Homo sapiens: one gene and its partners. The protein of the gene in region 2 purifies or fractionates together with the protein of the main gene of each other region. This does not show direct contact. Each region holds a gene or a part of one and is shown on either strand. Other genes may lie near its edges. The genes, in order: PLBD1, GMCL1, ECM1 and KLK10.

Region 1 (7,224 bases), on a different chromosome or scaffold from region 2:
ACCTTATGGAGACTGAATGACTTCCAAGATGTTAAACTTTTTCAGAACCAGATAAAGGTATGATTTATTTCTCTAGTGACCACCTGACTTCTCTATACATACCACTTAGAAAAAATTATATAAGGACCTTCTAAAATCAATTATGGGGCTTTTGGTCTGGAAAGATAAACGCAACACCATATGTCTGAAATCATAGCTTGAAAGATTTGGCTAGAATGACTGTGCAATTATTTGTCAACTTCTGGAATAATAAAACTATAGAGTAACCTTTACAAATTGAAGAATATGCAAGAATTAACTAAAAGTGTCCGGGCATGGTAGCTCACACCTGTAATCCCTGCACTTTGGGAGGCTGAGGCGGGCAGATCACCTGAGGCCAGGAGTTCGAGACTAGTCTGTCCAACCTGTTGAAATCCCATCTCTACAAAAAATATAAAAATTAGCTGGGCGTGGTGGTGTGTGCCTGTAATCCCAGCTACTCGGGAGGCTGAGTCAGGAGAATTGCTTGAACCAAAGAGGTGGAGGTTGCAGTGAGCCGAGATCACGCCACTGTACCCAGCCTGGGGGGAAAATAAAAATAATAGGAAATAATAGTAAAAAAAAAAAAAAGTAAAATTAAAAATTGAAGAAGTTGTTTTTGGATAGATAGATGCATATGAGTGGATATAAAATCCATTCCAAGGGGATGGACATGCAATCCCTTTAGTGTTTACTGAATTCCTACTAAGTTCAGGGTACTGAGCTGGGTACTTCAGAGAACACATGACAAGTGAGAGGTAGCAAGTCCCAGTTCTTTACTCTTTGGTTGTTCGCAGGCTAGTAGAAGGGTAAAGACAAAGACCCAAAAAGCCTCAAGGGAAAACAGATTAATGTGGGTAGGACAAAGGAAACAGAGATCTCATCTGCTGAAATAGTGTGGCATCACCAGATGTCCTTAACACCTAGGTAAGTAAGAATCCTTTCCAGATTGCTGGGCATGGTGCTGTCAGGATCACTTCATCTCAGAAATGTCCTTACTTTCTGCCTTGGCTCCAGAACCTCCAAGCATGGAGTCAGCTTCCTGTTGGAGGAACTGTTTAAGATGCAGTTTCTTACAAGGTGGTACCTTCTTGAATAAATAGTGCTCCATCTTCAGAAAAACAACGCCTGTCTCACTCCTCAGGCTGCCCCCTCCACCTACAAAAACACTTAATCTCACTCGTCCAAAAAAACAGAAAAGGAATAAAGATTTTAGCCAGCATTCCAAACACAAAAGCTACCTCCACTTTTGGGACCCTCCCCAGCCTCCCCCAGGTACCTCTGAATGAGCTGTCTCCCTAGACTAGAAGTAGACACCAAGGCCACCTCCATAGTTTAGGCAAAGAACACAGAAAATCACGAGTCAGGAGCCTGTGGGTACATCTGATCCCACAGACTGGAAAGATTTAAGATTGAAGAGTGATAACTAAGCAAGTCTCAAAAACGAAGGCTCTTGATGATGGAAGGTAGTGTAATAAGAATCAGTACACATATTTAGGAAGGGGCATCCTCCCCCAAGCCCCACCCTACTCTTGTACAAGGTCAGCACAGAAAAGGGGATTATGAAATAAGACAAAATTAATTCTCTTATTATTACTTTAGAATTCTTTCAAGTCCCTTAGTTACAGTTCATAATCTTCACCTCCTTAGGAACGGAAATCATAAATCCAAGGCTTTTTAATTTAATTTAATTTAATTTTGGCAAAGGATGTAGATTTGCATGAATACCTGTAGAGATAAAACCTGTTTTTCCAAGAGGGAAGTAGTTAAGAAAATGCCCTCTGGCATCCCCTAACTCTGTCTTATTTGCTGTGTTATCTTTATGCGAATTACTTCTGATCAATCTCACTTTTCTCATCTGCAGAATGGGGAATATAATCCTATTTAGGATTATATATTAAAAAAAAAAAAAAAAAACTGCCGGGCGCGGTGGCTCATGCCTGTAATCCCAGCACTTTGGGAGGCCGAGGCAGGCGGATCGCCCGAGTCAGGCGTTCGAGACCAGCCTGTCCAACATGGTGAAACCTCGTCTCTACTAATAATGCACAAATTAGCTGGGCATGGTGGCTGACGCCTGTAATCCCAGCTACTTGGGAAGCTGAGGGAGGAGAATCGCTTGAACCCGGGAGGCGGAAGTTGCAGTGAGCCGAGATCACACCATTGCACTCCAGCGTCGCCCACAGAGAGCGACTCTGTCTCAACAACAACAACAAAACCAAAAGGCCCTTAAGCCCACTGCCAGGCACGTATCAAACTGACAATCGTGCAATCGTGATTTTAAGCCAAAGTCAATGTAAATTTTTAAAACACAAAACAAATGGCAAGCCGGAACCATACCTCCCTACAATCTGGATAAATATATTTAGATGCCCATTGGCTGGAGTTTTTAAGACCAGCCCAGGCTCTGTGGGCCAAGAATCGGCGCAGGAGCGAACCGATTTGTTGGCCAAGAATTCGGGCCAAAACTTGTAAAGTTGGCAGACGCACTCGCCATGCCCTTCTCAAGTGCCCTCGCTGCGCAGCCGCAGGGCTGGAGCGAGACCGCCGGCCGGAGGCGCGTTTCTCTGAGTTCACCCAGGAACCAGACGCCCGCTGGACGTCAACTCGGCCGGACGCGGGGCACGGGCGCTAACAGGCTCCTAGGAGCCTCCCCGGGCGCCCCCCGCCCAGGGCGCGCTCTGCTCACCTGCAGGTTTCGGCGGCTCCGCGGTGACTAACAACAGCGGCAGCAGCAGCAGCAGCAGCAGAAGCGGTGGCGGCTGTGGCAGCCCCGGGCGCCCGCCCGGACCGCCGCGGGTCATCGCTCCACGGCCGCGACCTTCCTCTGCGGGATCAGGCGGCCGCGGTGGCCCGCGGTGGCAGAAGTTGCAAGAGAGGCTCCTGGCCTACTCAGGGGCGCCGCCTCTCCGAGGTGGGGCGTCCTCAACTTTCCTCTTTCTTGAGCCCGGCCTGCTCCGGGCTCTGAGGGGCGAGGACGCTTCACGTGGTGGCCTGGGGCCCACCCCGCCTAGGAAAGGCGGATCCTTTACGTCTGACCCTCTAGCAACCCCTGGGCCGGTCTGGGAAAGTTCCCCAGCTGCACTTCTGGGAAATGCAGAGGCTGCCTGCCGCTTTCTTTCGCAGTTTTGCGGCCCAAGGCTTGGGCGAATCAGTTCACATCAACACCCCTACTAGCCTCTCCCTCCGGGGTCGACCATTTATCTCCAGCAGCGGACCAGGCGCCCGGGCCAGGGTGACATGCGCGCCCTGCCTACACGCAGCTCGGATCCTCTGCTGTTTCTGGAGAGGCCTCCACAGGTGCGTTTTCCTCAGCGATTAGCGTACCCCTCATTCCCAGGCTGTTTAACCTAAATCCATGCGCTGTAGCTCAGATTTTTTATCCTTTTTGCTTCCTCTTCGTTGGCTGGAGCCACCACAGGAGAGTGATTCAGACGGGGCTGACACTAGACACACTCCTACGTTTCTGTGGAGTCCCCATTTCTGTGTGGGGTCAGTTAAAAGTGACATTGTGAAGTAGTCAAAAGTTATGCCTTGGGTGATATTGTGAAGTTGGCACCGGGTGCCCTAGGTGACATTGTGAAGTAGGCAAAAGGCATTTCATTCATTCACTCAGCATTGGCTGGGCCCATCTTATACTCCAGATACCAGTGATATAAAGACAGCTAAGAGCATGCCTCACCACAGACAAAAAGAACTAAGCCAGCCGGGCGCCGTGGCTCACGCCTGTAATCCCAGCACTTTGGGAGGCCGAGGCGGGCAGATCACGAGGTCAGGATATCGAGGCCATCCTGGCTAACACGGTGAAACCCCGTCTCTACTAAAAATACAAAAAATTAGTCGGACACGGTGGCGGGCGCCTGTAGTCCAGCTACTTGGGAGGCTGACGCAGGAGAATGGCGTAAACCCGGGAGGCGGAGCTTGCAGTGAGCCGAGATCGCGCCACTCTACTCCAGCCTGGGCGACAGAGCGAGATTCGTCTCAAAAAAAAATAATAATAATAACAATAATAATTTTTTTAAAAAAGAACTAAGCCATATAGATAAACAAGTACACAGAACTTGCCATTCTACTGTGTTAGAGCTATGTTTAAGGTGCAGTGGGAGAGGGGGAAGGAGGGAACAAGCCACCTCTCAGATGGGAACCTCAGCACCCCACTCTTCCTCTTGGCCTTTCTTCTAAGCTTAACCTAGGTGTCAAGGAGAGATGAGAAGAGAGAATAAGCAGTACCTTTCATAACGGGGAAAATGTAATTGTTAGAAAAGATAAAGAACCTAAAAGTTCATCAAATCTCTGTGCAAATTGTGAAACACAAGTCACAATTTTGTGGTCCAGGCACCATGGCTCATGCCTGTAATCCCAACACTTTGGGAGGCCAAGGTGGGAGGATCACCGGAGCCCAAAAGTTCAAGACAAGCCTGTGCCACACAGGGAGACTCCAACTCATTTTTATTTAATTAAAATTAAAGTCACAATTATGTTTAATGGCATTTAATGAATGAAGACATCGAGGACATTGTAAAAGTTGCACATTTTCCTTCAAGTTAGAAAATTAAAATGAAGAAAAATTAAAACGAAGACATCGAGGACATTGTAAAAGTTGCACATTTTCCTTCGTTAGAAAATTTAAATGAAGAAAAATTAAAATGAAGACATCGAGGACATTGTAAAAGTTGCACATTTTCCTTCAAGTTAGAAAATTAAAATGAACCAAAAATGAAAATTTTGGTTGTGTTATGATGGGAAGAGAACCACATTAGGATGTTCAAGGAAGTGGTGCCACCCCAAATATTTGAGTCATATTGCCCTATACCACCCTCCTTCACCTTACTAACCCTTCTGATCCAAGGAGCCAAGTGTTCTGATGAAGTAAGATGCATATAAATGCCTAATGTGAACCTTGAGGCATTCATTCATCTATTATTTGTCATCAAATATTCGTTGACTCCCATGTTCCAAGCACAGAGCAGTAGACAAAACAAAGTCCCTGCCCTTGCAGAGCTTGCATTCCAGTAGTGGGGAGCAAATTATACATATAAACAAATTAATTGGATCAGGACTTCTCCACATCAGCACTATTGAAATTTTGGAGCAGACAACTCTTTGTTGTGGGGGGGTTGTCCTGGACACCCCTTGGCCTTTACCTACTGGATGCTAGTGGCACCCCCATTGAAAATGTCTCCAGACATTGTCAAATGCTCCCGTAGGGGGGCAAAATTGCCCCCTAGTTGAGAATCACTGAATTAGATGATAAATCTTGCTTTCTTTAAATTATGCCAGTTTTACATATCTGGGAGGAAAATGAGCTGCAAAACTCACACATAGTTAGGAAAATAAATCTTGGGACCCCAAAATCACTAAGCCAAGGGAAAAGTCAAGCTGGAAACTATGTCAGGCAAACCTGCCTCTCATTTTATTCTGAAATAAGATAGCTACAAAGATAAGAAGCTACATACCTCCCTCACAGTTTGCCCACAAGGAAATTCCCTGTGGACAAAGGGAAGACAGAACTTAAAAGTCATCCCTCTGAGGCTCACCTGAGACAAATGCACATCTGATTGCTTCCTCTGCAGTATTGTTTATGTAAAAATGCAGACTCCCTGGGCCAGACTAAGTTGTGTATTCTGTGGAAGGCTGATCAAGGATTCAAAAGAATGTAACATTTTGTCTCTTTTCTACTTCTAACATGGAATACCCCACTTTGAGTTGTCTCGCCTTACCATACTGAACCAATGTACATCTTACACGTATTGACTGATGTCTCATATCTCCCTAAAATGTATAAAAGTAAGCTGTACCCCGACCACGTTAGGCACATGTTGTCAGGACCTCCTGAGGCTGTGGCCCTGGTGTGTCCTTAACTTTGGCAAAATAAACTTTCTAAATTGACTGAGACCTGTCTCAGATTTTTTGGATTCACATACTAAAGCTGCAATGAGGAGAACCAAAGATGCCAGCTGCGAAATGTTCTCATCACTTCTATAATGGACTTGTGTGGTTTGGGGCTACTCAGCGTCCATTATTCTCTTCCTGTACCAACTTTTGGTGCAGGAATGCCAACTTTTGGTGAGCCAAGGGTGGAGGTGTTTCTACCAGGAGACACAATAAGGAAGTATTATTGAATTGGAATTTGAAAGTGCATTACTGAATTGCAATTGGTCTTTTTTGAGCTCCTCTTAAAACATAAAAATATGTTTGAATGGTTAAGAATAGGATTGTAGTATTGGTAATTTTGCCTTACTATCAAAAGGAGTAGGAGCATTGGATGCGGTGGCTCACTCCTGTAATCCCAGCACTTCAGGAGGCCGAGTTGGGTGGATCACTTGAGATCAGGAATTCGAGACTAGCCTGGCCAACATGGTGAAACCTCGTCTCTACTAAAAATACCAAAAATTAGCTGGGCATAGTGGCTCATGACTGTAATCCCAGCTACTTGAGAGGCTGATGCAGGAGAATCAGTTGAACCCAGGAGGCAGAGGTTGCAGTGAGCTGAGATCGCACCACTGCACTCCAGCCTGGATGACAGAGAGAGATTCCATCTCAAAAAACCAAAACCAAAACAAAATGAAAGGACTGGGAGCATAATCTCACCTGGGAAGCACCACTGGGGACTCAGACTCCTCATCCCAATGGGCAAAGAATCCCAGCAGCTGAGTTGCTGGCCCAAAGCAAGGGGAACATGGAAAAAAGGTGGAGAAGAGAAGTCACATATAATTATCTATAGCCAGGTGACCAGTTGCAGAAACAAAGATAGTGGTCTCTATTGGCCTCTATATTTCTTTCCTTGCTGTAACATGTATGTGGTGGATTGAAAATTTTACAGTTACAGTTCCAGAATGAAATATCCAAAATGTAAATTTGTTTCTTTTCCAAAAAAGTGTAATTAACTTAGCATTCAAACACATCCACTGATGGTAATTTTTTTTTTTTTTTAATTTTTTGTAAGACAGGATCTCACTATGTTGCTCAGGCTGGTCTCAAATTCCTGGGCTCAAGTGATCCTCCCACCTTGGCCTTCAAAAATGCTGGGATTACAGGTGTGAGTCCAACCAGTAAAAATTTTTAAATACCAGATTTAAGGTTGCGCAATTTCATTTGGACCAAATCCTTAGTGTCCTTTGCCTTCTTTATGTCCTTACCATTTTTCCTTAAGGATGACCTTAGCTTCGGGGGCTTATGTATTGACTTGGTACTAAATAAGGGACATTT
Region 2 (7,020 bases):
AAAACAGATATCAAGTAAACAGCATATAGTTGAGTCTTGCTTCTTTTGTCCAACAGGACAATCTAACCTTTCAATTAGTAGTTAGACCACTTATATTTAACGTAATTATTGAAATATATGTCACAGTGCATTTGAAGGAGAGAAATCACACAGCAATTTGAATACAGGAAATTTAATATAAACATTATTAACAAGGCACAGAGAATTAACTACTGAGGACAAAACGCTAAGGTAAAGAGATCCCTAGAAAATACATGTAGTAGTCAGTACTTCTAAGGCTGAGGCAGAATAGCCACAGAAGGAACAAATTTGGAATAGGTGCCCCCACCCCTTTCCCAAGCTAAGATTCAGATGATGTTGAAGGAGGTGTGGCTGTAGCCCACTGGATGGTGGAAAAGTTTGCTCAAGTGTGGTAAGCTGAGGCTGGCAAGTAGGACACTGCCTACTAGGATGCCAACAAAATTATTTGGAGGCCTTTTGGCCCAGAAGGCTAAAGATATTTACTATCTAGACCTTTACAGAAAAAGTGTACCAACTCCTAGACTACATGAGTGGACTGGAATGGAAAGTTTTTAAGGCAAACCTTTATCGGAAAATGCATATCAGAATTTAGTGTCTGTATATTACTGGAAGATGCTTGGATTATTCAGCCCAATACGGATGCAGGGTGTAAGAAAATACTAAGACGGGCCAGGCGTGGTGGCTCACGCCTGTAATCCCAGCACTTTGGGAAGCCAAGGCAAGCAGATCACTTTAGGCCAGGAGTTTGAGACCAGCCTGACCAACACAGTGAAACCCCGCCTCTACCAAAAAATACAAAAATTAGCCAGGCTTGGTGGTGCACGCCTGTATTCCTAGCTACTTGGGAGGCTGAGGCAGGAGAATTACCTGAACTCAGGAGGCGGAGGTTGTAGTGAGCCAAGATTGCGCCACTGCGCTCCAGCCTGAGCAACAGAGTAAGACCCTGTCTCAAAAACTAAACAAATAAAAATTTAAAAGAGAAAGTATTAAGATGTTGAATTTTGTGTGTTGGCCCTAGTATATACTTCCTGAGGTTGTCTGGTGTGCTCTCCCACATCAACAGACCACTTTATGAGAAGTTTTAGCTTTTAGGCCCAACTTCCACCTCATACCTTTGTCAACTGCATGTTCTACTTTTACATTTACGAGACTGTTAAAACCCACACTGTTCTACAACCAGATCTTGAGTGTTTTGTCCGTAGCTTGTCTCTAAAAAATTGAAACGACATTACATAGTTATAACTAAGTAAATATTGTTTCAGAAGAGTTAAGTAGTATGCTAGGATTATAAATCATACTTGATGGGTCCAGTGTCACAACTGCTTGTCTGTTCAAAGGGAGAAATTTTTCTAACCTCACAGTCATATGGAATCTTTTCTTGTATTCCATCAAGTGCTTAAAGTCAGGCCCTGCTTTTGTTTTTATCTTATTTGGACAGTGCCTTTTTTTGTATTGCTTTTTTATTGTCCTAGAGTTTATAATGGCCTTTCCCCCACTCTTGTCAAAATAACAATATTCCTTCATCATGGCTTCGGGTTTTTCTGAAAAAACACAGAAAAGTCTTTTGAAACACACTTTCATGGAATCCTTCTCTAAAACCTAGACCTCTTCCATCCTCCTGTTCCAATCTGGATTTGTCTACTCTTATGCTGGGACTTACTTTCACCCCATCTCTAGGATTGAATCCACTATTTTGTGTAGCCTGCATTTCTTTCTCGCTTATTTTAGGAACTATTTAATACATCCTCAAGTATTTTCCAAGGAAGGGTGCAAAAGGGGGTAATTTGTGCGTATCTAAATATAAATTTAGTCTCTTTTACTTTATTCATCCTCTGACTGGGTATGGAAATCTAAAGTAACTTTCTTCATATCTTTGATGACGCTGCTTCATTGTCTTCAGGCCTACAGTCTTGATGAAAAATTTGATTCTGGTGTAATTCTCTTTTCAGGTGACCATTTTTGCTCTCTGGAACTTGTGGAACTTTTTCTTTGGTATTTTGGGATTTAATTAGAATGTGCTTAAGTGTGGGTCTTTTAATGGCCTTGGTACTTGTTGGATCCTTATAATCTGGAGACTCATATACTACCTTAGTTTTGGGAAATTTTTTTCCATTAATTTCTTCCATAATTTCCTTTCGCTTCTTATCTTTATTTTTTCTTTCTGGGATGCCTCTTAACTGGATTTTGGATTTCTTGGATTATGCCTGTCTCTTCTTTTTTCCTTTCTTTGTCTTTTTGCTTTATGTTCTGGGAAATTTCCTTTAACTTTTTCATCACTATCATTAGGTTGTTTGGCCCTAACTATGAGGTATTTCTTTTGGACCAGGGGTGAAAATTACTAAAATATGAAATGTGCTGTGATCCATGAAAGCTTGGGAACCTCTGCTCTACAAAGCATGCCCCACCTATAACCAACTTCGTAGTCTTCTTACTCAAAGAAGAGGTACCTTGGAAATAGATCTATTTACTCAATTAAAACACCATACATCAGTTATTCATTCTTAAATATAAGTGGACAAGCAAGGAAGGATCACCCAACATGAGGAAGAAAAACAAACAAACTATTCTTTGGTTTATTTGTTTTTTTAAATTTCAGTAATCATGTCTTTAGTCTCTAAAAGCTCTTTCTTGTTCTGAGTGATCCTTTATCATAGCAGTCTATGGGGTAAATATAATAATCTCAGATCTCTAGGTATACTGGTGAGAGGGTGTTTTTTTCCTCTCTTTTCCCTGAATTATATGTTTCCAGGGGTGGAGGGAGTCTCTCTGTCTCTCTGATATGCTCTTATTCTTCCTCATGGTGGGTGATCCTTCCTTGCTTGTCCACTTATATTTAAGAAGGAGTAACTGGTGTATGGTGTTTTAATTGAGGAAATAGATCTATTTCCAATGTACCTCTTCTTTGAGTAAGAAGACTACGAAGTTGGTTATAGGTGGGGCATGCTTTGTAGAGCAGAGGTTCCCAAGCTTTCATGGATCACAGCACATTTCATATTTTAGTAATTTTCACCCCTGGTCCAAAAGAAATACCTCATAGTTAGGGCCAAACAACCTAATGATAGCAGATTGCATGGTATCTGAAAGATGTTACTGTGTTTCCTTCGAATTTAAAATACTCCACATGCCTCTCTGAGTTGGCTGTGGTGCTCTAAGTTCAGATGGTATCCTGAACTGGTGAATTTCACACACGGTTTGGGAACCATGACTTAGGGTGAATGGATTGGGAGTGAACAGGCCACAGATTCTTTAAATTTCAGAATGAGGATTGCTTTGTCTGGGCACCAGCAGCTACACTACAGCCTTAGATCTTCCATTAGCTTTGTGCTATTTCTAGAAAAACCTTGGAATCTTTTTGCCTCAGTATCTGTACTCTCCTTATCTATACTCTGTGTTCATAGAGTGGAGAAGGCACTAGTTTCCCCATTTTCTGCCCCTCTTCTTACTTCTGCCTTTGTTTCCCTGAGACCTCATCCTTCTTTTCTCCCAAGGGTTCTGATGGGCAGATAAGCTTAGCCTCCATCCTAGTCCTCCATAATGTATTTTTTGGCTGTGGCTGTCACTGTTCTTTTTCATTTGAATTTGTTTTCTAACTTTCAGATCTGTATAAATCTCTCATCAAGTGATGAGCCTACCCTCACCTTTTCCTGGTGTGGACTTATTCCTTTTTTGTACTCTTAATCTTTAATGTAATTTGGGGAGGGATGGGAAGCCAACATGTGTACATTCTGCCGTCAGGAACTGGAAACTACATTGTCTCTTGATTTCGCATCATAACGAGTGAAGTGGATACTATTAATGTCCTCTTTTTACAGCTGTGATAACTGAGCAGCTGGGACTCAAACCCAAGTCTGTTACCACTAAGACATGTGCTGTTTTTATTGTCGGCTAGGAAGAGGTGTTAAGTACACAGGTGTTAAATTCGCCAATTCAGGATGTCATCTGAAACAATTACTTCATTTTTAAAAAGAGATTGAAGGTTTTATGTGCTAGGAAAGCTTTCAGAATTGGTCAGGAATTTAAGATATTGATCAGCCTCTGCCTAAGGCCTTTTCTTAGTTACTGGATCATTTTGAGCAATGATTTTCAAACTTTATTTTTTTAGTCAAGTCTTCCTTTAAATTAAATCTGTGCAGAAATCCAGTATGTTTACAGATAGAATAGGTGATGCTGCTCTGGTTGAAGTTAGATGGGATGCTCACAGTTCACTCCTTAGCTCTCCTTGGTGGCCCCTAAGACTTCTCCTTTGAGCAGTTTTAAAAACCTTTCATCTAAAATAAATAAATAAATAATTTTAAAAAACAAATAGGAAAAGAAAAGAAAACCTTTGATCTAAGGTTGCAAACCGTTTGTCCAGTGGCTGGAAAACATTTTAAGTAGTTTAAGAATAGGTTGGTACCAAAATAAGATTAAATGTAAATTATTTTAAAATTACTTGGGTAGGTGAAATGTTTACTCTTGTTCTCCATTTCCTACTTGCAGATTATTGCGCTATTTGAGCTCCTTCATAGTGCTGGTTTCTAAATAAGGAAATAAGCAAAAAATCAACATGCTAACTTCTTAATCTATTGAATGGGTAATTAAATTAGTCCAAAATTGCTAAAACATGTGTAGTGAAAAGTCTGCCTCCCATGCTGCCCCCCTTTCTCCACTATCTCTCCCGTGCATAGAGGACCCCAGAGATAACCACTATTATTAGTTTCTTATGTACTCTTCTAGACACAAGAAAATTTGAATATATACTATCTCCCTATCCTTTTACACAATAGGTAAGTTGACTCTATTTAATAGAAATTGAATAAAAGGAGTATTTAGAAATATATGCAAAATCAGTAAAACATTCAGTTTTATATAAATATGTGACTTTTTCATTTCTTTTAACAGGAAAAAATTAAAGAGTACATCTAAATATATTTATCAAACATTATTTTTGAATGGTGAAAACAGTGACATTAAGATTTGTGCTCTAGGAGAAGAATGGAGCTTACACAAAATATATTTATGTCAAGTAAGTATTTTTTCTATTTGAGTAACAGGGTAGTCACTGAAACTCTTAAGTCATGTTCTTCCTCATTGCACTTCACAGTAATCTTTTGCATGAACACCATAGTGGTTAAATCCTCTCATTTGATCAGTCTGTAAGAAAAATGGCAAACATTGTTAGTGAAAACTAAGTTTGGTCTAGAAAGAGATTTTGATATTTCAGTATCAGACTAGCCTAATACTACGTATTTGTCATTACTTCATAAAATGCTTTTTTCGGTGCCTTCTGTTGATAAAAGGGGAAAAGTTGGGGAAAAAATATTTAACATTAAAGTTAAGATTGTAGTGTTTATTTTGCTTATGGTTATTTAAATTGGATAAACTCATCTGAAATGTTGCTTTGTAGTTCACATTGAGTGTGAATAGAAAGTTCTCTCCTGAAAAATGCAGGTAAAGACAACACCAAAAAGTATATAGACTAAGTAGATTTCTGTACTGAAAATATTACTACCTGCCACCCCACTTTAAAAATTCAGAACTTTCATAGCTGACGTGGTGTTGGGCACCTGTAATCCCAGCTACTCAGGAGGCTGAGGCAGGAGAATTGCTTGAACCTGGGAGATGGAGGTTGCAGTGAGCTGAGATCGTACCACTGCATTCCAGCCTGGGCAACAGAGCGAGACTCTGTCTCAAAAAAAAAAAAAAAAAAAAAAAAAAAATCGGAGCTTTCAAAATAGAATACAATGTTGCTCTAATGGCCCAAATATTTTATTCATTTTCTTTCATCAAATCTATAAGCTAGGTATTGTTTGAGGCACTAGAAATAAAACAACAGTTTTTATCCTTTGGAACTTACATTTTTCCTCTTTACCATTTGAGAATAATTACTGGTAAGACAGCATAGTATAAAATTTTTCAGTAAAAGTATTTGAAAATGAATTGCCTTCTCTAACATTTTAATCATGTTTTAAAATGTGTTTTTGAAACAAATTTATTTTGGCTTGAAGTATGTTGCCCAGATACTATATCAGAATATTGCTTTTAACTTCAGGGTATGATTCATGTTGTTTCTTTTTAATATCTGAAAGCAGTTTTGTGAACTTGAGGGTAAGAATACCTCTGTTAAAACTTTACCCCTCGTGGAAGATGTATTATAATTCAAGCCACATGCTAAAATATAAGCCCCCTGAGGACAGAAACAATATCGATTTTGTTTATTGCTATATTCACAGTGCCTTCTACATACTAAGTACTCAGTAACATTTTTAAATAAATTAGTTAATATTTGATCCATTTCAAAGTAATTCTAATTATGAGGAGTGCTATCTGGCAGATACCTAAAGACTTCATTCTGTACCTTTCCAAGAATTCAGGTCCATTCTGGACATTTCTCATTAAACTAAATTTTGGATTTTCCCTGGTTTCTTTGGCGATCATCCTGTTTTTGCTGACTTGGGACTGGTTTGGTCCTTTATAGCCATTCAGGTGTACAGTAAAGATTCAACAGTTTGAGTAAAAAGCTAACCAGGTTCAAATAATATACATGAATTCAATTTAGATAGTAATATAAGAATTTTAGTTTTTTGTCAAAAATAGTACTAAACCAAAAGTATATTTTGATACACCTAATAGTGTCCTTATCTTAATTTCTTTTCTCCTGTGGACATATTTGGCAGTTCTTTTTCTGTTGAAGTAATAGAATGGATGAGTTTAGTTAATGGATAGAATAGTTGCTTAGAATTAGAAATGGGCAAATAATTTGGAAGACACAGAAAGTACTTGATAATCGTTGACTTTTTTTTTTGTTTAAGTCTGGCTACTTTTCTAGTATGTTCAGTGGTTCTTGGAAAGAATCCAGCATGAATATTATTGAACTGGAGATTCCTGACCAGAACATTGATGTAGAAGGTAACTACCACAATAATTACTATTATGCAACAATCGTAAAAACATAATCTTATTCTTCTGGTAGAAGATAAATAATTCCTTCCAGCCTTGTAGTCTAGAAAACTCCTTTTA
Region 3 (7,466 bases), on a different chromosome or scaffold from region 2:
GTGTATATATGTGTGTATATATGTGTGTATATATGTGTATATATATGTGTGTGTATATATACACACACACACACACACATATACACACACATACATATATATATGTTAGCTGGGCGTGGTGGCATGTACCTGTAGTCCCAGCTACTCAGGAGGCTGAGGCAGGAGAGTCGCTTGAACCCGGGAGGCGGAGGCTGCAGTGAGCTGAAATCGTGCCACTGCACTCCTGTCAGGGTGACAGAGTGAGACTCTGTCTCAAAAAAAAAAAAAAAAAAGGAATAATTCTCAGAGCTGGCTGACCAAGAGACAGTAATCAGAGTAGGGTGTCTGATGGACAGTTTCAGAGGTACAGCCATTGGGGGAGATGACAGGATAAAGGGTGTAGCCATAGATGGGTGGTGGTGAAGATCTCTGAGATGAGGAGCTCAAGGAATTGAGAGGCCAGGGTGTGGACATCAGGTAATATTATAACACCATTATTAGATGGAGAGAGCTGCTGAGAACTACTGCCAGAGTGAGTTGAGTAGAGTGAACTGGAGGGGTAGCGTATGATAGAGCTAGGTGACATGATGAAGGTAGTAGCCCGGGATGAGGGTAGGTTAAAGGGTGGGATGGCACAGGTAATGGAGGATAGTGGTTCTGGATAGTGCTTCTGGCTTATCTCGTGCCTTCCCATCTGTTTCCTGTAGATTGACGTGCACCTCCACGATGCCCTGGGCCGGCCACATCAGTGTGGGACAATTCAGCTTGACTTCCAACTGCCCCTGAGATTTGACCTCCAGTATAAGGGGTATAAAACCTTGCCCTATCCTCTTTTCCCTTGACAGTGCATGGAATAAGTCCTTCTGCCTTTGGCCCTAAAAACTAAACCCTCCACACCCTCTCCTGCCAGAGCTGAATATTTCTTAAAAACTGGAAGGTGATCTTGGGTACACAATTCGTGATACTTCCACCATTCCATCCACCCCCCCCTTTTTCCTTTCAAGGCAGGCGGGTGCCCTGGAGCGTCCAGTCCTCATTCACCGAGCAGTGCTCGGTTCTGTGGAAAGACTGTTGGGAGTGCTGGCAGAAAGCTGCGGGGGGAAATGGTGAGACCTCTGACCTGGATTTCTGTTCTGGCCCCAAACCGGATAGTTATGCTCCAGATCCTGTCCCCCTTCATATGCCAGCCTCTTTCCTTCTCAAGTCTGCTCCATACAAGCACACTTCTGGCCAGAGCCAGAGTGACTAATTTGCCATCACCTGTTCTTTCCCTACCAGGCCACTGTGGCTGTCCCCGTTCCAGGTGGTGGTCATCCCTGTGGGGAGTGAGCAAGAGGAATACGCCAAAGAGGTAAGGAGTTGAGGTAAGGGAGGGGGCAGAAGCAGGTCCAGTAGAGAGTCTGGTGCCCTGCAGTGGGCAGGAAGAGGCTGCAGGGGTGGTAGAGGAAGGAGCACAGCCCTCACAGCCACAAGACTGGGCTCGAGTGGCTGCTGTCCTAGATGCTGGAAATCCTGTATCTAAAAAATGTGACTAATGCCTACCTTGTAGAGATGTATGAAAATTAAACAAATTAACAAATGTTGAAAGCCACCAAAAGAGCACTTGGCACAAAACTGGGATTGAGTACACAGTTTTATTTTTCCTTTCTAGAGAGAATTGAGGATATGGATGGTACCAGAGTCAAACAGCTGGTTGGGTAGAGCAGTGGCTAGAAGGCAAAGTCCACGGAATAACTGGGGGGTCATCTCCAGTAGGAGGCAGAAAGATTGTGGGGTTGGGGATGAATGGGGAGGAGGCCTCAATGTGGAGATGAAATGAGGAGAGGTTGCTGGTAAGAAGTGGAGAGCCCCGAGGCAGGGAAAGGAGGAACAGATGGGGGCATTGAGGGAAAAGAGCATCAGACTGTTCTAGCTCCTTAACTTTCCAGTAAATTAACTTCCTGTCACCAAACCTCTGTTGCAGGCACAGCAGAGCCTGCGGGCTGCAGGACTGGTCAGTGACCTGGATGCAGACTCTGGACTGACCCTCAGCCGGAGAATCCGCCGGGCCCAGCTTGCCCACTACAATTTTCAGTTTGGTAAGCTGAACCTCAGAGCCAATGTTCTCCCACCTGCCGTCTGCATTCTTGCTGTTAAGTTTACCAAGTCTGGTAATGCATATTTGGGTTAATTGGGGCTCATTACCTGAGCAGGTAGGAGCCAGGATTCAGGACACCTGACTCATTTGGGCCCTGTGTTCCTTCACATTGCCCTGCCCTCCCCATAACCACTTCTGACACTCAAAATAGTTTTCCTCTTTTTAACTCCACTCTAGCTGTTGGTGTCTGTTAGGTTAATTAACCAAGGGAGCATCAGAGAGAAAGGGACGGGAGGGTTAATACAGCGTTAATTACCCTTGTTTATTTTAGACCTAGATGGAATCAGCCCTAAGGGATGAGGAGAAAGGCCTTAGGGAGAAAATTCTGGCACTGCCATGCTCCCTTTTTCATTTTCCAGGGTTCAGGGCTCTATCTCAAAGGTGAGGAGCAGAAACTCCTCAGCCAGATTACCTGATTCTTGAGTTTTGCACACCCCACTCTCCCTACAAGCACCCAGAGCAAGCTGTGCTGCAATCCCAGGGACTTGTACATGGCCCCTTTCCCTCCCTTACCGCCCAGTCAGCCCCTGCATACATCCTCCTCAGCAGAGGCCCCTCACTCTGTGAATCCAGCCCTAACAGACACCAAGAGCCAGAGTGGGACTGATGAGAGGAAACTGTTCTAAGGGTCAGAGTGGTTGGGGGGAGGCGGGGCAGTGTGAAGGCCACACCACTCCTGCCACCTTCCACTTGCTCTAATACCCCCTTCAGACACGCGCGCGCACACACACACACACACACACACACACACAGTTTCTCTCTGTGGGGTTCTCATTGTTTGTCTTTCTCTGCTTGACTCTAATGTCTCTGACACACACACACACACACACACACACACACACAGTTTCTCTCTGTGGGGTTCTCAGTGTTTGTCTTTCTCTGCTTGACTCTTATGTCTCTGACCCTGGGGCTCTTGACCAGAAGCGATAAGGCCTGCGGGGACTGAAGCACTTCCTTGTCTCCTCAGGATGAGCAGGACTGGTCATTTAGTATTAGCAGACACAGCTGAATACTTCCTTTCTGTGAACCATATCTGGGCTCTGCTCCCACCCTTCCTAAAGATTTAGGTCTCTCAAGTTTCTGCAGAGCAAAAGAAACTGTTCCATGTGGGTGAATTTGCCCTGAGGTTCCCAAACTTCCTCTACCTGCAGTGGTTGGCCAGAAAGAGCAAAGTAAGAGAACAGTGAACATTCGGACTCGAGATAATCGTCGCCTTGGGGAGTGGGACTTGCCTGAGGCTGTGCAGCGACTGGTGGAGCTACAGAACACGAGGGTCCCAAATGCCGAAGAAATTTTCTGAGCCTTTGTACATAGATGAGGCAAAAACCTGCGAGTGCCATCAGCCTCCCTCACATGGGAGACCCCAACCCAGCTGACAATGTGGAGCCCCCAGAACTTCAGAACTGTGTGGAGGCACATGTCTGCTCTCCTGAAAAGAGACTTGGTTTGGGGACCCCACAAAAGGAGGGAAGCTGTAGCTGTTTGGATGTGAGGAGAATGAAACTACAAAAAAAAATAAATTGGGCCAGGCGCAGTGGCTCATGCCTGTAATCCCAGCACTCTGGGAGGCTGAGGCGGACGGATCATGAGGTCAGGAGATCAAGACCACCCTGGCTAACACGGTGAAACCCTGTCTCTACTAAAAATACAAAAAATTAGCCGGGCATGGTGGCACACGCCTGTAATCCCAGCTACTCAGGAGGCTGAGGCAGGAGAATCGCTTGAACCCGGGAGGTAGAGGTTGCAGTGAGCTGAGATTGCGCCACTGCACCCCCCTAGGCGACAGAGCGAGACTCTGTCTCTAAATAAATAAATAAATAAATAAATACAAACTGGAAGCTGCTGGTCATATGTCTTCATCTCTGACTCTGGAGAGGTGGGATAAAAGGATGTTCCACTTTGTCTCCCTCTTTTTTGTCCCAGAGAGTTAGGGAAATTGAAAAGGGACAGTCCAGACCTCACACTGGTAGGGGAGATCCCTTGGATAGGTTTCCTGCTCCCCGCTGTAAACTCCTTTGTGCCCTGTTTCCCCAACCCCAGTTCATGAGTTGGCAGATCCCCTCTCCACAGAAGGCAGCCTGTAGATGGAGAAACTGAGGCACAAACTAGGGGCTCAAACACCTCTTGCTCCTGGATTCTCTGAATCAGTTTCTCTTGAAGGTCATAAGAATGTTCTCCTCTAATCAGTCCCATTCTTCTCAATCCTCTGAGGAGGCTTCAGGGTGACTTTGGGAGGAGTGGCTTCCAGAGGAGGAGCAGCTGGGACTGAGTCATGGCAGGAAGCTGAGGAGGGCGGGAGATCACACCAGACAATTATAAAAGAAGAGCTGGTCCTGAAGCTCACAACCGTAACAGCCACCAGACAAGCTTCAGTGGCCGGCCCTTCACATCCAGACTTGCCTGAGAGGACCCACCTCTGAGTGTCCAGTGGTCAGTTGCCCCAGGATGGGGACCACAGCCAGAGCAGCCTTGGTCTTGACCTATTTGGCTGTTGCTTCTGCTGCCTCTGAGGGAGGTGAGTTGGGGGATCAGCACTTAGGAGGGGGTCTGGGCTTGCATGGCAGGGGTCTGGGTCCAGGCATCCCAGACGGCTCATCACTAGCAGAGTGATTCTCCGTTTGGCTTTCCTTTTCTGAGCAGGCCCAAAGTGGGCCTAGGCCAGTGGAGCCTTTAACCAAGGAGGCAGAGAGCAGGGGCACAGAAGGAGAGGGGTTCCTAGAAACTGCTGCCAAGAAACACAGAATCCCAGTCAAATAGACAACTGAGTGGGGGGTGGGTTCACAGAGTGAGGGTCTCCTGCTGATGAGGATGTAGGGAGGTGGCTGGTGGGAGAGGCAAGGGAGGGAAAAGGGGCCCCCAGGCTGCTCAAAACCGGATTGCTGGCCCAGCAAGCCTCGACTGACTCCCTGTCTGATTAGAGGAGTTGAGGGGTGTCCATCCACAGACCCACCCTCCATCCAGCACAAACACATTCTTTATCTGCTTTGATGCCTGAACAAAACAGGAACCCCTCAATGCTATGGGTGGAAACTAAGAAAAAAAGGAAAAGAAAAGGAAAAAAACCACCCAGGGCACTCCTGCAGGAAGCTGCTGAGGATGTCAGCAAATCTGTCCACTTCTCTGTGAAGCCCCATGCCATCATTCTTCCCAGCTCCTGGTCTTTTGTGTCTGCAGATCACCTACAAGTGACCCTTCCCTGTGCCTGTCCCAGTCCCCCAGGCCCTAAATTGAGACCTAAACTAAGGCGGAGCTGAGACTGGCTGAAGGGGAAGCACTCAACCTTCAGGAAGCCTCCTTAACCAAAGGCCTAAAGATGTTTCAAGGGCCTGGAGTAGGAGGGTGGGTGGAGGAGGTGGATTGGGTAGGCTCCAACCAGCTCAAGGTCCAGACTTTTTCCTCTGAAAGCTAGAGACGCATCCCAGCAGAGACTGGGGAGGACAACCCACAGCCCTGAGGGAAAGACTGGCAGAGGAAATGAGGGCCTCCCTCCCCAATCCCGTATGCCATACTCCCTTTAGGCCCAACCTCTGAGCCAGTAGAGGTGGAGCTATCAGACCGCCACAGGCTTTCTCAGAACCCAGCTGGTCATGTCTAGGTGTGTTGGGGCTGGGAGAGGATTAGGGGACACGGGGCAGGTGAATACAGAGGGGCATCTCGTGTCTTGCTTGTCTGTCCTACACTCTTGATCTCCACAGCCTCCCCATCCCTTGCTGAAGTCCAGGGAAGGCCCTCCCAGTGGCCCCTGACTTGCCCTTCTTCCCTCCAGGCTTCACGGCTACAGGACAGAGGCAGCTGAGGCCAGAGCACTTTCAAGAAGGTAAGAGTTTGGGGGAGCAGCATGGGATTGGGACTCCAGGAGGCACTGTGGGCTCTGATGTCTCCCCTCTTGCTTCTAGTTGGCTACGCAGCTCCCCCCTCCCCACCCCTATCCCGAAGCCTCCCCATGGATCACCCTGACTCCTCTCAGCATGGCCCTCCCTTTGAGGGACAGAGTCAAGGTAAGGTCACCATCCCATGCCCTCCTCAGTGACCCTCCAGGTTTCTAATCTGGCCTATATCCCACTTTTCAGGTGGAAAGGAGGGAAGAGGCCCTCGCCCCCACTCCCAGCCCTGGCTAGGAGAAAGGGTGGGCTGCTCACACATTCCCCCTTCTATAGTGCAGCCCCCTCCCTCTCAGGAGGCCACCCCTCTCCAACAGGAAAAGCTGCTACCTGCCCAACTCCCTGCTGAAAAGGAAGGTGAGCGCTTGCCCACCCTCCCTCACCTCTATCCCACTATGGATCCTGTTGACACCAGGCTGATCCCTGCTCCTTGGTGCCCTCACCCCTATCTTGCAGTGGGTCCCCCTCTCCCTCAGGAAGCTGTCCCCCTCCAAAAAGAGCTGCCCTCTCTCCAGCACCCCAATGAACAGAAGGAAGGTAAGCAGCTCCCTCTCTTCTTTACCCACCTTTACCTCATGGCCTTCCCCCAGAGCATGGGCTTCGGGGCAGACAAGACGGTGGGCTCTGCCACTCACCAGTTGTATAACCTTGGGTAAGTTACATACTTCTCCAAGCCTTTGTTTCTTCATCTGTAAAATTGAGGATATACCTGTTTTAGAAAGTTATGTGATTAGATGTGCAAAAATAGCATCTATTTTCACTTGCTTCTCTGCTGAGTTCTTCTTTGTGCATGTAAACTAGCCAGGCTTTCTCTGCTAGAGATGGCCATCCCAACATGGCTTTTGCTTACTCCTTCTACCCAGTAGACCCACCTCTTCCATATCAGGAGGAGATAATCATCCATTCCATGCCGAGAGAGGGTGAGTGACAGCTTTGGTCTGTCCATCCTCCTGCCTTAGTGCTCAGGACCCTGGGGAGAGGAGCAGGAAGCCCGAGCCTTGAGAAGCAGGAGGAGGTGGGGGCAGGCTGTGAGCTGACACCTTTCACACCTCGCTTCTCTTTTCCTTTCAGTTATTTTAAAAGGAAGAGCCACAAATTGTTCTTTCTCATTTCCACTATATCCTCCCAACCCTTTCTCCTCCACCCCAGATTCTTTCAATCCTCCCAGCTCATCCAGCCTTTGTGGGTTCCTTCACATGTCCCCGCTTCCCACTGTTTTCCCCATTCCAGGAACGCCAGCTCCATTTGGGGACCAGAGCCATCCAGAACCTGAGTCCTGGAATGCAGCCCAGCACTGCCAACAGGACCGGTCCCAAGGGGGCTGGGGCCACCGGCTGGATGGCTTCCCCCCTGGGCGGCCTTCTCCAGACAATCTGAACCAAATCTGCCTTCCTAACCGTCAGCATGTGGTATATGGTCCCTGGAACCTACCACAGTCCAGCTACTCCCACCTCACTCGCCAGGGTGAG
Region 4 (7,679 bases), on a different chromosome or scaffold from region 2:
GGTGTCACTCACCTCTCCCACCCATGTCTCCCCCGACCTTTCCTCCTCCAACTACTGTCTCTCCCACCTCAGCCGCTACATAGTTCACCTGGGGCAGCACAACCTCCAGAAGGAGGAGGGCTGTGAGCAGACCCGGACAGCCACTGAGTCCTTCCCCCACCCCGGCTTCAACAACAGCCTCCCCAACAAAGACCACCGCAATGACATCATGCTGGTGAAGATGGCATCGCCAGTCTCCATCACCTGGGCTGTGCGACCCCTCACCCTCTCCTCACGCTGTGTCACTGCTGGCACCAGCTGCCTCATTTCCGGCTGGGGCAGCACGTCCAGCCCCCAGTGTAGGAGCACCAGAGGGGAACCTGGCAGGGGGTGGTGAGGAGGGAGTGGTCAGGATTGTGGAAGGGTTCAGGGCATCAGAGATGCGGTTCACAGTGACGATGTGGGATAAGTTGAGAGGATGTGTGGAAAACGTCAGGATAGGGGGGTGGGGACAAAAGTTGGGGCCTTGGAGTCAGACGGACGGGATATGCAATCATACATCCATAACCTCCTGGTTGTAAGACCTTAGGCAAGCAGCTTCACCTCTCTGAATCTTGATTTTCTTCTCTATAAAATGAGAATGATTATACCCACCTGTCAGGATTGGATTAGAGATAATGTATATCAAGCAACTGACATAAATCATTTATTGGATAGCAGGCTGGGCACCGTGGCTCACGCCTGTAATCCCAGCACTTTGGGAGGCCGAGGTGGGAAGATCACCTGAGGTCAGGACTTTGATACCAGCCTGGCCAACGTGGTGAAATCCCATCTCTACTAAAAATGTGAAAATTAGTTGGGCGTGGTTGTGTGCGCCTGTAATCCCAGCTACTCGGGAGGTTGAGGCAGGAGAATCGCTTAAACTTGGGAGACGGAGGTTGCAGTGAGCCAAGATCACGCCACTGCACTCCAGCCTGGGCAACAGAGCAAGACTCTGTCTCGAAAAAAAAAAAAAAAAAGCTGGATAGCATTGCTGTTGCTATTGTTACAAGAAGAGAGGTGAGTTGGCTGCGTCTAAGGACAGGGATTCCCCCAGGGGCGGGATCACAGCAAGCACTGCATTAGGGGAGGTGGCAGGGGGCTCATTCCCACAGCCCCTCACGCTGTTTCCACAGTACGCCTGCCTCACACCTTGCGATGCGCCAACATCACCATCATTGAGCACCAGAAGTGTGAGAACGCCTACCCCGGCAACATCACAGACACCATGGTGTGTGCCAGCGTGCAGGAAGGGGGCAAGGACTCCTGCCAGGTCAGTGTGGTCTCCAACCACAGCCCCATCCCCATCCCCAGCTTCAATGACATCTTTACCGACATCCACAATTTCATCCCCAACCTCAACCCGCCGACCCCTGCAACTCCCAATCCATCTCTTCCCCTGTTCCCGTTTCTGACCTCAGCACAAACTTCAGCTCCATCCCCGTTTCCACACCATTTCCAGCTCCAACCATCCCCAAACTCGTTTTTGAGCCTAACCCCATCCTTTATCCCACCCATAATCCCAGCTTTATCGCTAAACCTATCACCTTTCCCAGTGCCTACCCATCCTGTCTCGGCCCCACTCCTAAGCACCGTCCCCACCTCCTCCCTGGCTAACACCATGCTCAACGCTTTCTCTGACCGACATTCTCTCTCCCCGTGCCCAGGGTGACTCCGGGGGCCCTCTGGTCTGTAACCAGTCTCTTCAAGGCATTATCTCCTGGGGCCAGGATCCGTGTGCGATCACCCGAAAGCCTGGTGTCTACACGAAAGTCTGCAAATATGTGGACTGGATCCAGGAGACGATGAAGAACAATTAGACTGGACCCACCCACCACAGCCCATCACCCTCCATTTCCACTTGGTGTTTGGTTCCTGTTCACTCTGTTAATAAGAAACCCTAAGCCAAGACCCTCTACGAACATTCTTTGGGCCTCCTGGACTACAGGAGATGCTGTCACTTAATAATCAACCTGGGGTTCGAAATCAGTGAGACCTGGATTCAAATTCTGCCTTGAAATATTGTGACTCTGGGAATGACAACACCTGGTTTGTTCTCTGTTGTATCCCCAGCCCCAAAGACAGCTCCTGGCCATATATCAAGGTTTCAATAAATATTTGCTAAATGAGTGAATCTACTGAGTGCTTACTATGTGCTAGACCCTGATCCAATGGCTTTTATTTTATTTTATTTTTTGACAGAGTCTCGCTCTGTCACCCAGGCTGGAGTACAGTGGTGCTATCTCTGCTCACTGCAACCTCCACCTCCTGGGTTCAAGCAATTCTCCTGCCTCAGCCTCCTGAATAGCTGGGATTACAGGTGCCTACCACCACATCCGGCTAATTTTTGTATTTTTTAGTAGAGATGGGGCTTCACCATGTTGGCCAGGCTGGTCTCGAACTCCTGACCTCAGATGATCTGCCCTCCTTGGCCTCCCAAACTCCTGGGATTACAGACGTGAGCCACCGCGCCCGCCCGGCTTTCATTTATTAATTAAAAGAAATTAAATTAATTAATCTATTTAGGAGACAGTCTTGCTCTGTTGCCCAGGCTGGAGTGCAGTAACAATCACAGCTCACGGCAATCTCAATTTCCTGGGGTCAAGTGATTGTCCTCCCTCAGCCTCCAGAGTAGCTGGGACTACAGGCACATGCCACGAAGCCCAGCTAATTTTTGTATTTTTCGTAGAGACAGAGGTCTCAGTATGTTGCCCCGGCTAGTCTCAAACTCCTGGGCTCAAGCAGTCTGTCCTCCTCAGCCTCCAAAAGTGGTGAGATTACAGGCATGAGTCGCTGTGCCTGGCCTCCAAGCACTTTCAAATGTATCAACTTAATCCTCACAAAACCCTGTGAGGTCGGTACTGTTTTCATACCTATTTTATAGTTGAAGAAACAGACACAGAGAAGCAAAGTCACTTGCTCACAGTCACGTGGCTAGGAGAGCAAGGATCTGAAGCAAGGCGATCTCTTAATTACCAAGTGATGTTCCTGGAGTAAGGCTCTGTTTGTTTCCTTTCCTGTAAAATGCTGCATGCAAAAGTATAACACAGTAAGTAAAGAAGTCAGTTAGCCTGCACATACTAAGACCTAACCAAAGGAGCTTATTGTTTTTCTCCAACTTCCATGATAGGTAATTAGATAGTGGAGACCTCTGCTGGCCAATATGGTAGCCACTAACCGCAGCTGGCTCTTCCAATTAAAATTACATAAAGCCAGAAATGTAACTCCTCTGTCTCACTTGTTATATCTCCAAGGCTGGATAGCCACATGTGACTGGTGGTGGCTGGATTAGCTAGTGCATATAAAACATCACTGCAGAAAGTTCAGCTGAGCAGCACTGAGTTAGATGGCCTCTGAAGAGGATGTCCCACGGAGAGAATCCAGAACTCAGGATCTTTTTTTTTTTTTTTCTTTGCGACAGAGTCTTGCTCTGTCACCCAGGCTGGAGTGCAGTGGCGTGATCTCGGCTCACTGCAACTTCTGCCTCCCAGGTTCAAGCAATTCTCCTGCCTCAGCCTCCCTAGTAGCTGGGACTACAGGCCTGTGCCAACATCCCCAGCTAATTTTTGTGTCTTTTTAGTAGAGATGGGGTTTCACTATGTTGGCCAGGCTGGTCTCGAACTCCTGACCTCGTGATCCGCCCCCCCTTGGCCTCCCAAAGTGCTGGGATTACAGGCGTGAGCCACCGCGCCCGGCCAGCTCAGGATCTTTTGGGATGGTCTGTTCACCTCGCAGAAGTGGCTGGCATGAGCAATAGGAGCCCAGAGTGGAACCAGGGCCTTCTGGTTGTCAAGTGGACTTGCTGTGTGACCTCCTGTGAGTCTCTGCCCTCTCTGAGCCTCTCACTCCTCACCTGAGATGAGGGAGTTGGCTGAGGTGATGCCGATGCCCCTCACAGCTTTGACCTCCTATGATTCAGGGGCCTGTGTGTCACCTGGTGGCACACAGATGGCAGGGAGGGTGTGAGATGGCCACACATGGGTATGAGGCAGAGCCACAGCCCCCCCCAACACGCACATGGGCTAGTCACTGGGACACACACAGAGCTCACTCACGGCCACAGAGTGGGCGTGGGTTTCCCTTTTTCCTTGTTTCTGTTTCTCTTAGCCTCGGCGCCTCCCTCCCTCCCTCTCTCTCTCTCTCTCTCTCTCTCTCTCTCTCTCTCTGGCTCTTTTAGCCTTGGTTTGTTACAATCTCCCTTTTCAAGCCAGCCTCTGTCCCTCCTACTCAACCTGCTTTATCTCTAGGCCTTCCTCCTTCCTCTTCCACAGTCTGGCTTCTCACATTGTCACTCTAGGTATGCACTTCCCATTGATTTCCTCTTGCTCAGTGGCCTCTCATCCTGCCACCCCTAGCCTTGCTGGGGACGTGAACCCTCTCCCCGCGCCTGGGAAGCCTTCTTGGCACCGGGACCCGGAGAATCCCCACGGAAGCCAGTTCCAAAAGGGATGAAAAGGGGGCGTTTCGGGCACTGGGAGAAGCCTGTATTCCAGGGCCCCTCCCAGAGCAGGAATCTGGGACCCAGGAGTGCCAGCCTCACCCACGGTACAATTAGACAGAGGGAAAGGGAGGGAGCCCGGGGGTGGGGGTAGGGGAGGGTGGAGAAGCTTCCGGACTCCTTGGGGTTAAAAGGGAAGGTCCCGCCAGGGGTCCCTGGGCAGAGGATACCAGCGGCAGACCACAGGCAGGGCAGAGGCACGTCTGGGTCCCCTCCCTCCTTCCTATCGGCGACTCCCAGGTGAAGCTACCTGCACCCCACCCGGGTTGGGGTGGATTGCGAGAGGATGGGTGGGGACCCCCGGGCCACAGGCAGGAGCCGGCTTAGAGCCTCGGTTTCTCCACCTGCGGGACGCGGAAGTCCCCCCGCTGTGAGGTTGAGAAAGAGGCTCCCACTGGCTCCGAGCCTCGGATCCCCACCCCGCGCGTGAAGGAGGGGGAAACCTCGGGCGCGGCGTGGCTGCAGCCAGGGTAGCTGGGGCGCGGAGAGCGCTCCACTCGGGCACAGGGAGGACGGGAAGATGCCGCGAGGGGCGTCATTAGGGTAATTGTGCCCATTACCGCTGTTCCAGCCCGAATCTCCCGTCTGCCAGCCCCTGGGGTTATCGGCTGCAGGTCAAAAGGGTGCTTGCGGGCTGGGGTGGCCCAGGCTGGGCGGATGAGCGCGGCGAGGTGGGGGTCTCTAACGGAGCATCTGTTTTAACCCGCCCCTGCACACACCCCAGCAGATCCTGGCCATGAGAGCTCCGCACCTCCACCTCTCCGCCGCCTCTGGCGCCCGGGCTCTGGCGAAGCTGCTGCCGCTGCTGATGGCGCAACTCTGGGGTAAGGTCGGGGGCAGGGGGCGGGGAGAGGCGCCGGTGGGAGGCACGGGCGGGAGGAGAATGTGTTCCCGTCACCAAGCCCCGCGCACCTCTCCTCCCCCGAGACCCCAGCACCCACCCAGCGCTCCGGAGCACGGCCCGCCCCCAAGTCAGCTGGGCCCTTCTTCTGGCTCGGCCCCTGGGTGACCCGCCCCACTCAGGCCCTGTCCGATTTCTGCCACCCGGATCCTCGCTCTTCCGTGGACTCTTCGCCGCGTTCTTTCTCCTCCTCTTACGCCGCCCCATCCCGGCCCCGCTCCATTTTACACTACCGTGTTTTGTTTTGTTTGTTTGTTTGTTTGAGACGGAGTCTCGCTCTGTCGCCCAGGCTGGAGTGCAGTGACGCGATCTCGGCTCACTGCAAGCTCCGCCTCCCGGGTTCACACCATTCTCCTGCCTCAGCCTCCCGAGTAGCTGGGACTACAGGCGCCCGCCACCAAGCCCGGCTAGTTTTTTGTATTTTTAGTAGAGATGGGATTTCACCGTGGTCTCGATCTCCTGGCCTCGTGATCCGCCTGCCTCGGCCTCCCAAAGTGCTGGGATTACAAGCGTGAGCCACCGCTCCCGGCCACACCACCGTGTTTTATCCTGAGTCTTGCCTTACCGCTTTTTGCCCTCTCCCCTCACTTTTTTTCTTCCTCTTTCCCTTTCTCTCTCTTTTTTCTTTTTCTTTCTTTCTTTTCTTTCTTTCGTTCTTCTTTTCCTTCCTTCCTTTCCTTCCTTCCTTTCGTTTGTTTCTTCTTTCTTGTTTTACTTTCTCTCTTATTTTTTCTTCTTTCTTTCTTGTTTTTTTCTTTCTCTCTCTTTTTCTTTCCTTCTTTTTTTTTTTTTTTTTTTTTTGAGACAGGGCAGTGCTCTGTCTCCGTGGCTGGAGTACAGTGGCCCAATCAGAGCTCACTGCAGCCTCGACCTCCTGGGCTCAAGCGATACTCAGCCTCCAGAGTAGCTGGTACCACAGGCATGCACCACCACATCCGGCTTTTTTTTTTTTTTTTTTTTTTTTTGAGACAGGGTCTCACTCTGTCGCCCAGACTGGAGTGCAGTGGCCCAATCTCGGCTCATTGCAACCTCCACCTCCTGGGCTCAAGCGATCCTCCCACCTCAGCCTCCCAGGTAGCTGTGACTACAGGCGCATGCCTCCGCGACTACTTTTTTGTTGTTGTTGTTGTTGTTTGTTTGTTTTTGTAGAGACTGGGTCTTGCTGTGTTGCCCGGGCTGGTCTTGAATTCCCGAGCTCAAGCGGTCCAACCGCCTCGGCTTCCCAAAGTGCTGGGATTACAGGCGTAAACCACTGCGCCCCACCCCTCTCCTGGTTTTCAATCCCGTTTTGTTATTCACACCCCTTCCTCTCCCCGATCCCCGAGTTCTATCCCCGCACCCTTACCTCCCCGCCGCGTTCAATCCCCGCCCCTCTATCGACCAGCGACGTTCTAGCCAGCTCTCCAGGCGCGCTGCGTTCAGTCCCTGCCCTCCAGACCCACCCTATTCTGTCTCATTACTCCACGCTACCCTATCCCAGCTTCCTTCCACTTTCACGCGCTTCTTCTCCTCCCATTCCCTTCGGTGCACGCGAAACCCCCAATATTTCCCTACCACCCTCGCGTTCTGGCTGCGTCCCCCGTCCCCGAACGCAGTCCAGTGCCACAGCCCAGCTCCAACCCCAAACCCAGACCCTGCCCTCCGTGCTTTGATTCCGTCCCCTTTCTTTCTCCAGCCGCAGAGGCGGCGCTGCTCCCCCAAAACGACACGCGCTTGGACCCCGAAGCCTATGGCTCCCCGTGCGCGCGCGGCTCGCAGCCCTGGCAGGTCTCGCTCTTCAACGGCCTCTCGTTCCACTGCGCGGGTGTCCTGGTGGACCAGAGTTGGGTGCTGACGGCCGCGCACTGCGGAAACAAGTAGGAGGAGATCCATCCCCGAGGACGCCACGGGGGGCTGTGGAGGCGGCCTCCAGGGAGGAGCGGGCAGGGCGGGGTCTCTCGGAACTCCCACAGCTGGAGGTGCGGTCCCCGGTGTCCTTCCAGCAGGAGGAGAGACCGGGCTTGCGCTGTGGCCGCCAGGGGGCGGTGTGGTCCTTTTCCGCATTTCTGGGCCCGTCACTCCTCTCCCGCTGATTCTCCTTGAGCTCTAGGAGGAGGTGGTTGCCTGCAACGGATAGAAGCCAGGGTCCGGTGTGGTCAGGAATTTAGAACTAAAGGAAAAGGTTCACTTCGTGAGTCCCCGTTGAAGGAGGAAGGGTTGGGTATTACCACAGAGAAAATGTGGAGTTGGGCTGGGCTCGGTGGCTCACGCCTGTAATCCCAG

Evidence for each region.
Region 1: the proteins of GMCL1 (region 2) and PLBD1 purify together in Homo sapiens (affinity purification with mass spectrometry; 3 studies listed by BioGRID and IntAct, with this or other methods). This does not show direct contact.
Region 3: the proteins of GMCL1 (region 2) and ECM1 purify together in Homo sapiens (affinity purification with mass spectrometry; 3 studies listed by BioGRID and IntAct, with this or other methods). This does not show direct contact.
Region 4: the proteins of GMCL1 (region 2) and KLK10 purify together in Homo sapiens (affinity purification with mass spectrometry; 3 studies listed by BioGRID and IntAct, with this or other methods). This does not show direct contact.

Annotation. Positions count from the first base shown.
Region 1 is NC_000012.12:14,564,878-14,572,101, forward strand, and holds the start of PLBD1 (phospholipase B-like 1 precursor), read right to left. Parts: upstream 3,007-7,224; 5' UTR 2,820-3,006; coding exon 2,705-2,819; intron 1-2,704. UniProt on the Homo sapiens protein: In view of the small size of the putative binding pocket, it has been proposed that it may act as an amidase or a peptidase.
Region 2 is NC_000002.12:69,832,645-69,839,664, forward strand, and holds part of GMCL1 (germ cell-less protein-like 1), read left to right. Parts: intron 1-4,902; coding exon 4,903-5,026; intron 5,027-6,812; coding exon 6,813-6,909; intron 6,910-7,020. UniProt on the Homo sapiens protein: Possible function in spermatogenesis. Enhances the degradation of MDM2 and increases the amount of p53 probably by modulating the nucleocytoplasmic transport.
Region 3 is NC_000001.11:150,503,649-150,511,114, forward strand, and holds the start of ECM1 (extracellular matrix protein 1 isoform 1 precursor), read left to right. Parts: upstream 1-4,460; 5' UTR 4,461-4,561; coding exon 4,562-4,631; intron 4,632-5,882; coding exon 5,883-5,933; intron 5,934-6,012; coding exon 6,013-6,114; intron 6,115-6,186; coding exon of another isoform or gene 6,187-6,273; coding exon 6,274-6,354; intron 6,355-6,453; coding exon 6,454-6,534; intron 6,535-7,227; coding exon 7,228-7,466. Other genes in the region: TARS2 (threonine--tRNA ligase, mitochondrial), read left to right, coding at 687-787, 984-1,085, 1,258-1,330, 1,943-2,057, 3,268-3,416. UniProt on the Homo sapiens protein: Involved in endochondral bone formation as negative regulator of bone mineralization. Stimulates the proliferation of endothelial cells and promotes angiogenesis. Inhibits MMP9 proteolytic activity.
Region 4 is NC_000019.10:51,016,704-51,024,382, reverse strand, and holds the start of KLK10 (kallikrein-10 preproprotein), read left to right. Parts: upstream 1-4,673; 5' UTR 4,674-4,756; intron 4,757-5,011; exon of another isoform or gene 5,012-5,130; intron 5,131-5,240; exon of another isoform or gene 5,241-5,243; 5' UTR 5,244-5,252; coding exon 5,253-5,340; intron 5,341-7,092; coding exon 7,093-7,273; intron 7,274-7,679. Other genes in the region: KLK11 (kallikrein-11), read left to right, coding at 2-338, 1,155-1,291, 1,686-1,838. UniProt on the Homo sapiens protein: Has a tumor-suppressor role for NES1 in breast and prostate cancer.